3 linked regions of the Homo sapiens genome follow. The protein of the gene in region 1 purifies or fractionates together with the protein of each later gene. This does not show direct contact. Each region holds a gene or a part of one and is shown in the gene's direction. Other genes may lie near its edges. The genes, in order: LDAF1, SLC44A1 and CCDC12.

Evidence for each region.
Region 2: the proteins of LDAF1 (region 1) and SLC44A1 purify together in Homo sapiens (affinity purification with mass spectrometry; one large-scale study listed by BioGRID and IntAct). This does not show direct contact.
Region 3: the proteins of LDAF1 (region 1) and CCDC12 purify together in Homo sapiens (affinity purification with mass spectrometry; one large-scale study listed by BioGRID and IntAct). This does not show direct contact.

Annotation. Positions count from the first base shown.
Region 1 is NC_000016.10:21,175,630-21,178,502, forward strand, and holds part of LDAF1 (lipid droplet assembly factor 1), read left to right. Parts: intron 1-1,507; coding exon of another isoform or gene 1,508-1,529; exon of another isoform or gene 1,530-1,532; coding exon of another isoform or gene 1,533-1,605; exon of another isoform or gene 1,606-2,873. UniProt on the Homo sapiens protein: Plays an important role in the formation of lipid droplets (LD) which are storage organelles at the center of lipid and energy homeostasis. In association with BSCL2/seipin, defines the sites of LD formation in the endoplasmic reticulum.
Region 2 is NC_000009.12:105,243,131-105,246,882, forward strand, and holds the start of SLC44A1 (choline transporter-like protein 1), read left to right. Parts: upstream 1-1,520; 5' UTR 1,521-1,738; coding exon 1,739-1,774; intron 1,775-1,888; exon of another isoform or gene 1,889-2,463; intron 2,464-3,752.
Region 3 is NC_000003.12:46,970,193-46,973,844, reverse strand, and holds part of CCDC12 (coiled-coil domain-containing protein 12), read left to right. Parts: intron 1-3,652.

The DNA of each region.
Region 1 (2,873 bases):
GTAAAACTTTATTTACAAAGACAGGCAGCTTGCTGGATTTGGCCAACCATTGCTCTATAAGAACTGATATCCTGAGTTTTGTTTTTCTACAAAACAGCCCTTGAACTCCTTACCAAAAGTTTATCCTGTTATTATTCCTATGTTGAAAAATAAAGGGTGAAGTGGGTATAATATAAAATTGCTCAAGGATGGCTCTTATAGGATTGCTTAATTGAATCAACCCTGGAGTCATAATCACCTTTTCAAAAATCGCTTTGATCACTCTTAGTCTTTTGTTTGTTCATTTGTATTTTACTTATAAAATGGGGTCTTGCTGTGTTGCCCAGGCCATTCTCAAACTCCTGGCTTCAAGCAATCCTCCCCCGTTGGCCTCTCAATGAACTGGAATTATAGGCGTAAGGCACTAACTCACTCCCAGTCTTAAAAGATGTAAAAGGAGAAATATTGGCCTATTTTGCATATTGAGGGTGATGCTTCTGAAATAAAATTCCTCCCTGCCTCTGAACGCTGCTGTAACAGGGTGAGTTCTTAAAGATTATACCACAGGAAGTAGCAGAATCTGACTCCCTACTTATCAATGAAGAAATTGAAAAACAAATCCAGGATTTGTACTTGATCTCCTTATCTTCCCCTATTGCTGCCAACCAATTGTTTCCACGTGGGCAGAGGTTCTTAAGCTTTTTGTTCTCAAGTCCCATTTTACCTTCTTAAAAATTATTGAGGCATCTGAAGAGATGTTATTTATGTGGTTAATTGTATTAATAGCACTTTGGGAGGCCAAGGAGGGAAGATCACTTGAGGCCAGGGGTTTAAGACCAACCTAGGCAACATGGCAAGACCACATCTCTACAAAAAATACAAAAATTAGCCAACTGTGGTGGTGCGTGCCTGTAGTCCCAGCTACTCAGGAGGCTGAGATGGGAGGATCATTTGGGCCCAGGAGTTCAAGGCTGCAGTGAGCTGTGATCACACCATTGCACTCCAGCCTGGGCAACAGAGCAAGACCCTGTCTCAAAAAACAAATGAAATGAGCTGAAATATAAAATAAATAACTAACATGACATAAAACTATATACAATAAAATAAATTAAAATAAACATAACATAAATTACATTAAATCAAATTAAATATTAGCTGGTGCATGCTTGTGGTCCCAGCTACTCAAGAGGCTGAGGAGGGAGGATGGCCTGAGCCTGGGAGGTTGGGGGTGCAGTGAGCTATGATTGTACCACTGCACTCCAGCCTGGGTGACAGAGCTAGACTCTGTCTGGAAAAAAAAAAAAAAAGAATATTAATAATTATTTCTTTTTAAAAAATTTTCTTCCTCATTGTTTCTTGTTCTGAAATAATTATTCTATGAGAAATCATAGCATAAATTTTAAAAATATCTATTCATTTAAAAGGAACAATATTACCTGTTGATATAAATAACAAATTTTAATGAAAAGTAACTATATTTTCCAAAACAAAATGAAATTTGTGAGTGGTATTATTTTACATTTTACAGATCTCTTTCATATCTGCCTTAACAGTTGTCAGCCGGCTTCTCGTTTGTGTGGCTGCATTCATTCTGTTGTGCTATGTTGTCCTGTTTGGAGTATTTGAAGAAGACCTAGCATCACTAACATGCGGTTGGGAGAGGGAGGCAAAGCTTTTTTAAACGATTGTGGATATTCTATGATAGTCCACCAAAACTCCGTAAGTGATAGTTTCTTAAAGGTTAGCTGAAATGTGAAATTTTTCTACTCTATTTTATTGAAATCTTCAGGTCTGTGTCACACTTTAAATTGATCTTTATCATGCATGATTTTCTAACTTTACCCATTGGTCAATGGGAGAATATCAATTCATTGAGTCATGCAGATCTTCCAAATATATTTTGAAAAATTGCACTGTTCCCTTGTGAGAGAATGTGAGTGAAAAAGGCATATAATAGGTCATGTTATTGTGAACATGGTTTTCATCTGAGAACCCTTGCATTAGCGAATTCTTTTTTTTTTTTTTTTTTTTGAGACGAGTCTCACTCTCACCCAGGCTGGAGTGCAGTGGCTTGATCTTGGTTCACACAACCTCTCCCTTCTGGGTTCAAGCAGTTCTTCTGTCTCAGCCTCCCGAGTAGCTGGGATTATAGGTGTGCACCACCATGCATGGCTAATTTTTGTGTTTTTAGTAGAGGTGGGGTTTCACCATGTTGGCCAGGCTGGTCTTGAACTCCTGAGCTCAAGTGATCCACCCACCTCAGCCTCCCAAGATGCTGGGATTATAGGTGTAAGCCACTGTACCCAGCCTGCATTAGTGAATTCTTTATAACTCAAAAAAAGATAACTCCCTCATTAAATGATCGAAAGCATGGAATGGGGGGAAGAGGAGCTATATAATTTATTTCATGATTTAATGGAATTTTGGCCCTAAAACATAAAAGATAATACAGCTTAAATTTTTAAAAAAGAAAAGAAAAAGGAAACAAAACTGTAAGTTTCCCTTACATATGAAACCCAACTAAACAATATTTAGATCAAATACACTGACCTGCCTCCTATGTAGATCAGCTAGCCTCTGAGGGGCAAAACCACACTGCTTGGTTATGGAGACTGCAAGACCTTCCAGGGCCTGCAGCTCAGGAGAAGTAGGGGCCCTGGGCAGCTGTGTTTATTTGCAGAGCCACCAAACTCACTACCCCATATCATAATCTTCCAAACCAGCCTGAGCATAACTAGCTTCCTTACATCTTTACTAAGAAAAGGAAAGGCTTCTTTCTTAGTTTTTTGTTATCAGGGAGGAATGGTTTAGGTGGCAAATAATGAAAAAAACCAAAGTAGATACTAGTTTAAACACACAGGGAACTTTTTTTTATTGCTTAATGAAAAACTGGA
Region 2 (3,752 bases), on another chromosome or scaffold:
GATCTCAATCAGTTGAGTACTTGCTGACCTAGCAGCACTTTCTTATGTTATTTAATCTTGACCACAAGCCTTTGCAGTCATCCCTGCTACCAGCATTTCACAGAAGCGGACAATGAGATTTGGAGAGATAACTCGTCCACAGTCACGAACTCAGGAAATGGCATAGGAAAACATCAATTAGGAATTCTTCTTCCCTGGCCCTTTCTGTAGCTGTCCCCTTACAGGCTACCATTCCAACTTTCCTTGGCTTAGATTCCCTTTCAGTGCATGTAAAGTCAATTTAATTCTGTGTTCTTTTCTTCCCTCTATACTTTAACTAATCTTTAAAACTTGATGTCTCATATTTGGTGAATCAGTCCTTTTGGAAGTCTCACTCCCTTGCAGCTTTGCAAATAAAGTTTTTCTTTTCTTTCCTGTGGCTGTCTTTTGAGACATTCTTTGACAAGATGAAATGACATATGAAGGCTATAACAGTGCCTGATAATGTGGGGTTTTTTTTAACATCATTATCTTTAGTTTTATTTCTTTCACTTTTTAACTGTTTTCACCTCATACTGTATTTCCTAACGACTCGTTTGGAATTGTAAATTTCTTGAAGGTAGTTACCACGTCTACTCTAACTTGTTGCTACTTCCTTGAGTCTTACTGATTTAGCAACAGGAACTTGGTAAGTCTCTTTTGCTCGCCTCTTTATTCCCAGTACTAGTCACTGGAACGTAGTGTGTCTTCAGTAAGTATTTTTAATATGAATAAATTAATGTCCCCTTATTGTTTTTTGTAGACTATCCTGTATAAGAAAGTTTAGCTTAGATCCAGTATGGCTTTGACTTGCGAGCCTGGATAACTTTTTGCCTTTTCCTCATTTCTGGCTATTTATTACCATTTCAACCTTGGGAACATTTCATTAGGTTCTTGGTCCCTTTCAAGCCTCAGTTTCCACATCAGCAAAATGGGGACAGTAGCAACAGATGCTTGTTTCTTCCCGTCTTCTTATCACCTATTCCTTCTCCAGGAAAGGTTTCTTGTGTACGCTTTCCTCTGGAGAAAAAAAACAGCCGACGGGGCGGTAAGAAGCCATCAGGATCCTGAGTTGTGCGTCCAGTAGGGAGAGGGAGAAGTCCCGCTTGCCTCCTAGATCCGGAAGCAATCCGGCCCCTTTTTGGCAGCGAGTTGGCCCGGTCTTTGGCTGCCTCAGACCGCGTTGCCCTCCAGCCTCGAGGCAGAGAGCTGCCTCGGTGCCACAGCTAAATAAGCCCGGCGCCGCGCAGCCTCTGACACGCGCGGAAGGGCCCGGCCTTGTTCTGGCTGCCGCCGCCCTGCCACCAGCACGGCGCTGCACTGGGGGCGGGGAGTCTGATGGGAGACGCGCGCGGCGCTGAGGAGGCGGCGGCCCGGGAGAGGGAGCGGGAGAGGGACTGGGCGCGGGAGGCGGGAGGCGGGGGGACAGAGGGAGGCGCCGCCGCCGCCGCCGCCCGCCCCTTTCCGCTGGGGAGCAGCTGCTGCAGCAGGAGCAGAGCAGGAGACGCGTAGCCGCCGTCGCCGCCGCCGGGGGATGTGGCCGGCGCCTGCCTCTAGCCGCGCCGCCTCTTGAGTACCAGCCGCCGCTGCAGCCGCCGCCGCCGCCTAGCCGTGCGGTGCCAGGCCGCGCCCTCCCCGGGCGCCCGCCGGCTCGCATGCCGAGGGGCTCCGGGGCGTAGCTGCGCGCCCGGCGCCGCCTCCGGGCTCCTTCGGCCCCGCCATGGGCTGCTGCAGCTCCGCCTCCTCCGCCGCGCAGGTGAGGGGCTCCCGCCTCCCGGCCGCCCGCCCGGATGCCTCCCGTGCGCCGCGTCGCGCGGCGGGCGCCCGCCGCCCGATACCTCTCGCTGTCCCCAGCCTCCCCTGAGCGCACCGTGCAGTCCAAAGACCCCCACTCCGCCTTTCCGTCCGCCGGGTCCCGCCGATGCCCGTGCGCTGGCTCCGCGGCTGCCGACTCAAAGGCGCCTCTGCGCGGCGCCTAGTGCGCCCTCAGCTCTTCCCGGCCCCTTCCCCAGTCGGCCCCCTCCTCCCAGTCACACCTGAGCTGCCCGTCCCGCCCGCCTGCAGGTAGAGGCTGCACTGGCGCCTCCTCTGCCCCAGGTGGCATCCCCTTCCCTGTTCTTCCGGGCCTGGCTCCTCTCTTCCACCTCCGTGGAGTCTCCCCGCCATCCGCCGCCCGTTTTCTGTGCTCCTCGCAGGTGTACCCCCAGCAAGAGCTCTTCACCTCTCCCACCGAATTCCAGTTTCTGCTTCATTAGATATTCTGTCCCTTTTCTCTTGCCCGCTGCCCCCTGGCTGGGTTCAGATGGTTTCAGCGGGTCCCGGAGCCCTTCCACGGCCCGCTCCGCAGACCTCGCTTGCTCGCTTGCACCCCATCCCCCCTTAGTGCCGTGACCCGGGCCCCGCGGCCTCCCCGCACTCGGAGGCCCCTGCGGGAGCGCCGACTCTGGGCTGGGAAGGAGATTGGGCACCTGGTGGGTGACGGGAGCGCTACGGAAACTCCCTCTTTGTTGCCAGTGTAACAGGAGGAAGAGGTTCCGAATTTAGTTTTTCTGTGGGCACTGGCTGAATGTTGTCGCTGAGGGCTGAGATGCAGAGATTTCTCTCAGCTTCTACCCTGCCCCCATCCAAATTTCGCCAACCTCCTTCTCTCGGATCCGAGCCCTTAACCTGGGTGGAAATGTTTAGACAACTGTACGAGGATCAAATGTAATAGAACTCGACTACTGGCCACTAATAACTGAGAGGACCTGTTTGTAAATTACCTAATTTAGTGGATTAGCGAGTGTATTTACAAATACTATAAAAAGCAATCAGGAATACTGCATCAAACTGTCTTGTGGTGGTGTATGAAAAATAGGCTCTGACAACGCCTGGGATGTAATCTCACAGTTTCATTAGCGTAGTTTCATTAACTGTGGTCTGTGATTTGTTTGTTTTAGGGGGCAGAAAAGGGCTCTTGTTTTTAGAAATAAAGGATGGTTGGTTCTTGGTGAAGAAAAACGCTAGTTTGGGGGGAAAAAATTCCTCCAGAAAGCTAGCATCTGTGATAATGCCAGAAGTGTTTTTGCTGCTGCTAAATGACTATATATAACTCAGTTTTAAATAACCTGCATACTTGTTCTGAAAATCTGAGATCTGTTAGAGAGAAAATGACTAGAATTGCAGATGAATGGGGGACATTTGTGTTTTATTAGGTATCCATCCTATCATCCTATTCCTCCAGTCTTTTTTTTTTTTTTTTGAGTGTTTGCTTACCCGTTAGCTTTTTTTTTTCCTGCTAGCATTATAGTCAGGCTTTTTGGTGTAGTTAAAGATTCCTATTCAGTTATAATAGCAAAGTAAAACTATACGTAGAGGTGTTAGGAAGGAGAGGCTTGGTATATCAGAGTTTTCATATTAACATATAAAGGTGTAGAATTGCACATAACTTTCAACTGGTTAGGAATTTGTGGGGGTCTAGTTGGGTGCTCTTTAATATTTACTTAAGTATAATTTTCACCAAAAAGGTGTTTTTCAGATTGCCTTTCTTTTCAGAATTGAGTTAATTTACATTCCCTTTTGGTGGTGAAATGCCTTTAAGACAGAAAAGTATTGATAGTTTATGGATAGCTTGTTCAGTGCATGAACAGTTAAATTTGGGAGGGATGGGTGCTGCATCAGAACTCTGCTTTAAAACCGATAGTGGGTCTTGCATTTGTCTAGCTCCACGTCATACTTTTCAGAATGCTATCGTA
Region 3 (3,652 bases), on another chromosome or scaffold:
GTCAGGAGATCGAGACCATTCTGGCTAACACAGTGAAAACCTGTCTCTATTAAAAATACAAAAAATTAGCCGAGCGCGGTGGTGGGCGCCTGTAGTCCCAGCTACTTGGGAGGCTGAGGCAGGAGAATGACGTGAACCTGGGAGGCGGAGCTTGCAGTGAGCTGAGATGCGCCACTGCACTCCAGCCTGGGCGACAGAGTGAGACTCCATCTCAAAAAAAAAAAAAAAAAAGAAAAGAAGAAACATGGGAGTACAGATACCTGTTTGAGTATCTGCTTTAAATTCTTTTGGGTAGATAGCCAGAAGTGGAATTACTGGATCATATGGTAATTCTTGTTTTTTTTTTTTTGAGATGGAGTTTCGCTCTTGTTGCCCAGGCTGGAATGCAATGGTGCAATCTCAGCTCACTGCAGCCTCCGCCTCCTGGGTTCAAGCAATTTTCCTGTCTCAGCCTCTCGAGTAGCTGGGATTAATTTTTTTTTTTTTTTTTTGAGATGGAGCTTCGCTCTTGTTGCCCAGGCTGGAGTGCGATGGCACGATCTCAGCTCACTGCAACTTCCACCTCCTGGGTTCAAGCGATTCTCCTGCCTTAGCCTCCCCAGTAGCTGGGATTACAGGTGTATGCCACCACGCCCAGCTAATTTTTTATTTTAGTAGAGACAGGGTGTCACCATGTTGGTCAGGCTGGTCTCAAACTCCTGACCTCAGGTGATCCACCCACCTCGGCCTCCCAAAGTGCTGGGATTACAGGCGTGAGCCACCACACTGGGCCTTTTTTTTTTTTTTAAATTCGGGTGATGTCAGGTGAGGAGAAGGGAGATCAGTCTCAAATCTGTCTTTTCGACGAACTAAAATCAGGGGTTTATATAGCAGGGAGAGGAATGTAATTATGTGTAGGGAAAACAGCTGGATCATATGATAATTCTGTTTAGCTTTTTGAGGAAACACCATAGTGTTTTCAGTAGTGGCTGCACCATTTACATTCCCAGCAGCAGTGTGCAAGGCTTCCAGTTTCTCCACATCCTCCCCAGCACTTATTATTTTATTTTCTTTCTTTCTTTTTTTTTTTTTAAAGGAGTCAGGAGTCTCACTGTGTTGCCCCAGGCCGGTCTTGAACTCCTGGGTTCAAGTGATCCTCCTGCCTTGGCCTCCAAAAATGCTAGGATTACAAGTGTGAGCCACCAAGCCCAGCCATCTTCTTTTTTCGTTTTTTTAATTATAACCTTCCTAATGGGTGTGAAGTGGTGGTATCCCATTGTGGTTTTGATTTGCATTTCCCCAGTGATGAGTGATGTTGAACATCCTTTCATATGCTTGTTTGCCACTTGTATATATATTTTCTTTGAAGAAGTATCCAGATTCCTTTTGCCCATATTTTTAATTGGGCTCTTTTTCTTGTTATTGAGTTGTCATTGAATTGTTCATATATTCTGGATATTAAATCATTATTAGAGATGAGATTAGTGATATTTTTTCCCATTCTCTGGATTATCTTTTCATTCTCTTAGTAGTGTCATTTTTTTAAAAATTAATTTTTTGTAGAGATGGGGGTCTCACTGTGTTTCCCAAGCTGATCTCAAACACCTGGCCTCAGGCAGTCCTCCTGCTTTGGCCTCCCAAAGTGTTGGGATTACAGGTGTGAACCACCGCACCTGGTGGATAGTCTCATTTGCTGCGCAAAGAGTTTAAAATTTGATGAAGTTCAATTTATCTGTTTTTGATTTTGTTGCATGTATTTTTAGTGTCATATTTAATCCCTATAGTTCTTGAGTGATTTTTTTTATTAAGGTGAATGCCTGGGGACAGGACAGGTAAGGGTCTAACCTTTGAGTTGATTTTCCAGCCTGTGGCCCTTTCTGCTGGACCTTTTAAGTGGGGAGTCTGGTGAGGAAGTATGACTGCCTGCTGTGGCCAGATAAAACCCCTTGAGTCTCCTCCTTCAGAGAGGAAGCGGCTTCACATTTTTAGTTCAGGTTTCTGATGTGACAACAGACACCAGGATTGAGCACCTTCTCTGCCTGCACTTGGAGAGCACCTGTCTGCCCCATGAGGATGGCATCTTGCTGGTTTCCTAGCACTCAGTGGCAGGTCCTTCATTGAGTTCTTACTGTGGGCATGGTTTTGCTGGAGGCCTTAGGAATTTCAGGCATGGAGTTGGTTTTCCTCACAGTTTTATCTTTCTTCCTAACTCTCACCAGACTATAAACTCATAATTTAGTGATATTAAGACAATTCAGGGTCCTGAGGTTGTGGCAGATGGAAAGAGACAAGATTAGGGGTTGCAATGTTTCCGTGTATTATTCTGCGCAAAACTCTCTTGTAGTCATGCAGCTGTAGTTTTACAAAGACGTCCTGGTCAGCCCACCTGATGCCACTTATTAGTGAGAGGAGCAAGGCAAGAGGCTGAGGAGAGCTGGGATGTCCAAGGCTGAGGAGGGGAAGTAATGTCTCCTGGATTCCAGGATTCCAGCCCATGCAAGACCCCCTGGGGGAAGGGGATTCTGTAGAGGACACAGCACTGCCTGAAGCAGCATCTTGTAGGTCAGCCAGTTCCCGTTGACACGCAGAAAGACAGTACTGCTGGGGTTCATTTTCTGGGAAAGCCAGGCAGAGCCTGAGGAAGCTTCATGGGAAGGCAGCATGGAACTTGAGCTGAGCCACGGAGGATGGGGAAGTGGGAGAAGGTCATCGAGGTAGCTGGAAAGGAGAGTGTTCCCAGGGAGCATTTTAGAGGTGGGAACATTCAGGTGCATAGAGGTGAGAGTGGAGATGCTCCAGGGAGTTTGACAGCAAGCACTTGGCAGTGATACAGGGGCAGGGGTACAGTCTGAAAGTGCTGGACTGGGGTACTCTGGTAGCCAAGTTTTGCAAGAGCCAGGGTTTCCAGCAGGGATGGTAGCCAGCCTGGGCACACTTTTCTGTATTGTATTTGAACCTCATTTCCTGATGCTCATCCAGAAGTTCCTGGCTGGGTGAGTAGGTGAACAGTTCAAGGCTGTGTGGATGAAACTCTGGCATCTCTTTACAGTGCTGTCCGGCAGGGCAGTGTGAGGCCACTCTGTCCTCCTTTGACCTCTTTCTTCTTCAGCAGCCAAATGGAGGCTCTCTAAAGGTGATGATTAACTTGGCATAAACATGCCAAGCTTTCCTGAGCGATTGCCCTGAATTGGGCTGTCTCTTGCTGCTCTGAGACAGGGAGACTGGCTGTCTGGCTGACCAGCCCTTGGGGCTGAGGTCTGGCTGTCAAGTTGCAGGTTCCAGGCAACCAGCAATTCCTGGTTGTCACCTGGCTCTAGAGATTAGAGCAGCAGTGTTGCTCACTAGAACTTTGTGCAGTGATAGTGTTCTTTAATCTGCACTGTCTAGTACTGTAGCCATGGGCCACCTGTGACTTTCAAGCCCTTGAAATGTGGCTACCGGCCAGGCACAGTGGCTCATGCCTGTTATCCAGGGGTGTCCAATCTTCTGGCTTCCCTGGGCCACAATGGAAGAAGAATTGTCTTGGGCCACACATAATATGCAGTAACACTAATGATAGCTGATGAGCTTTAAAAAAAAAATCACAAAAAATATCTCATAATGTTTTAGGAAAGTTTACGAATTTGTGTTGGGCTGCATTTGAAGTGGTCCTGGGCCTTGGTCTGCGGGTTGG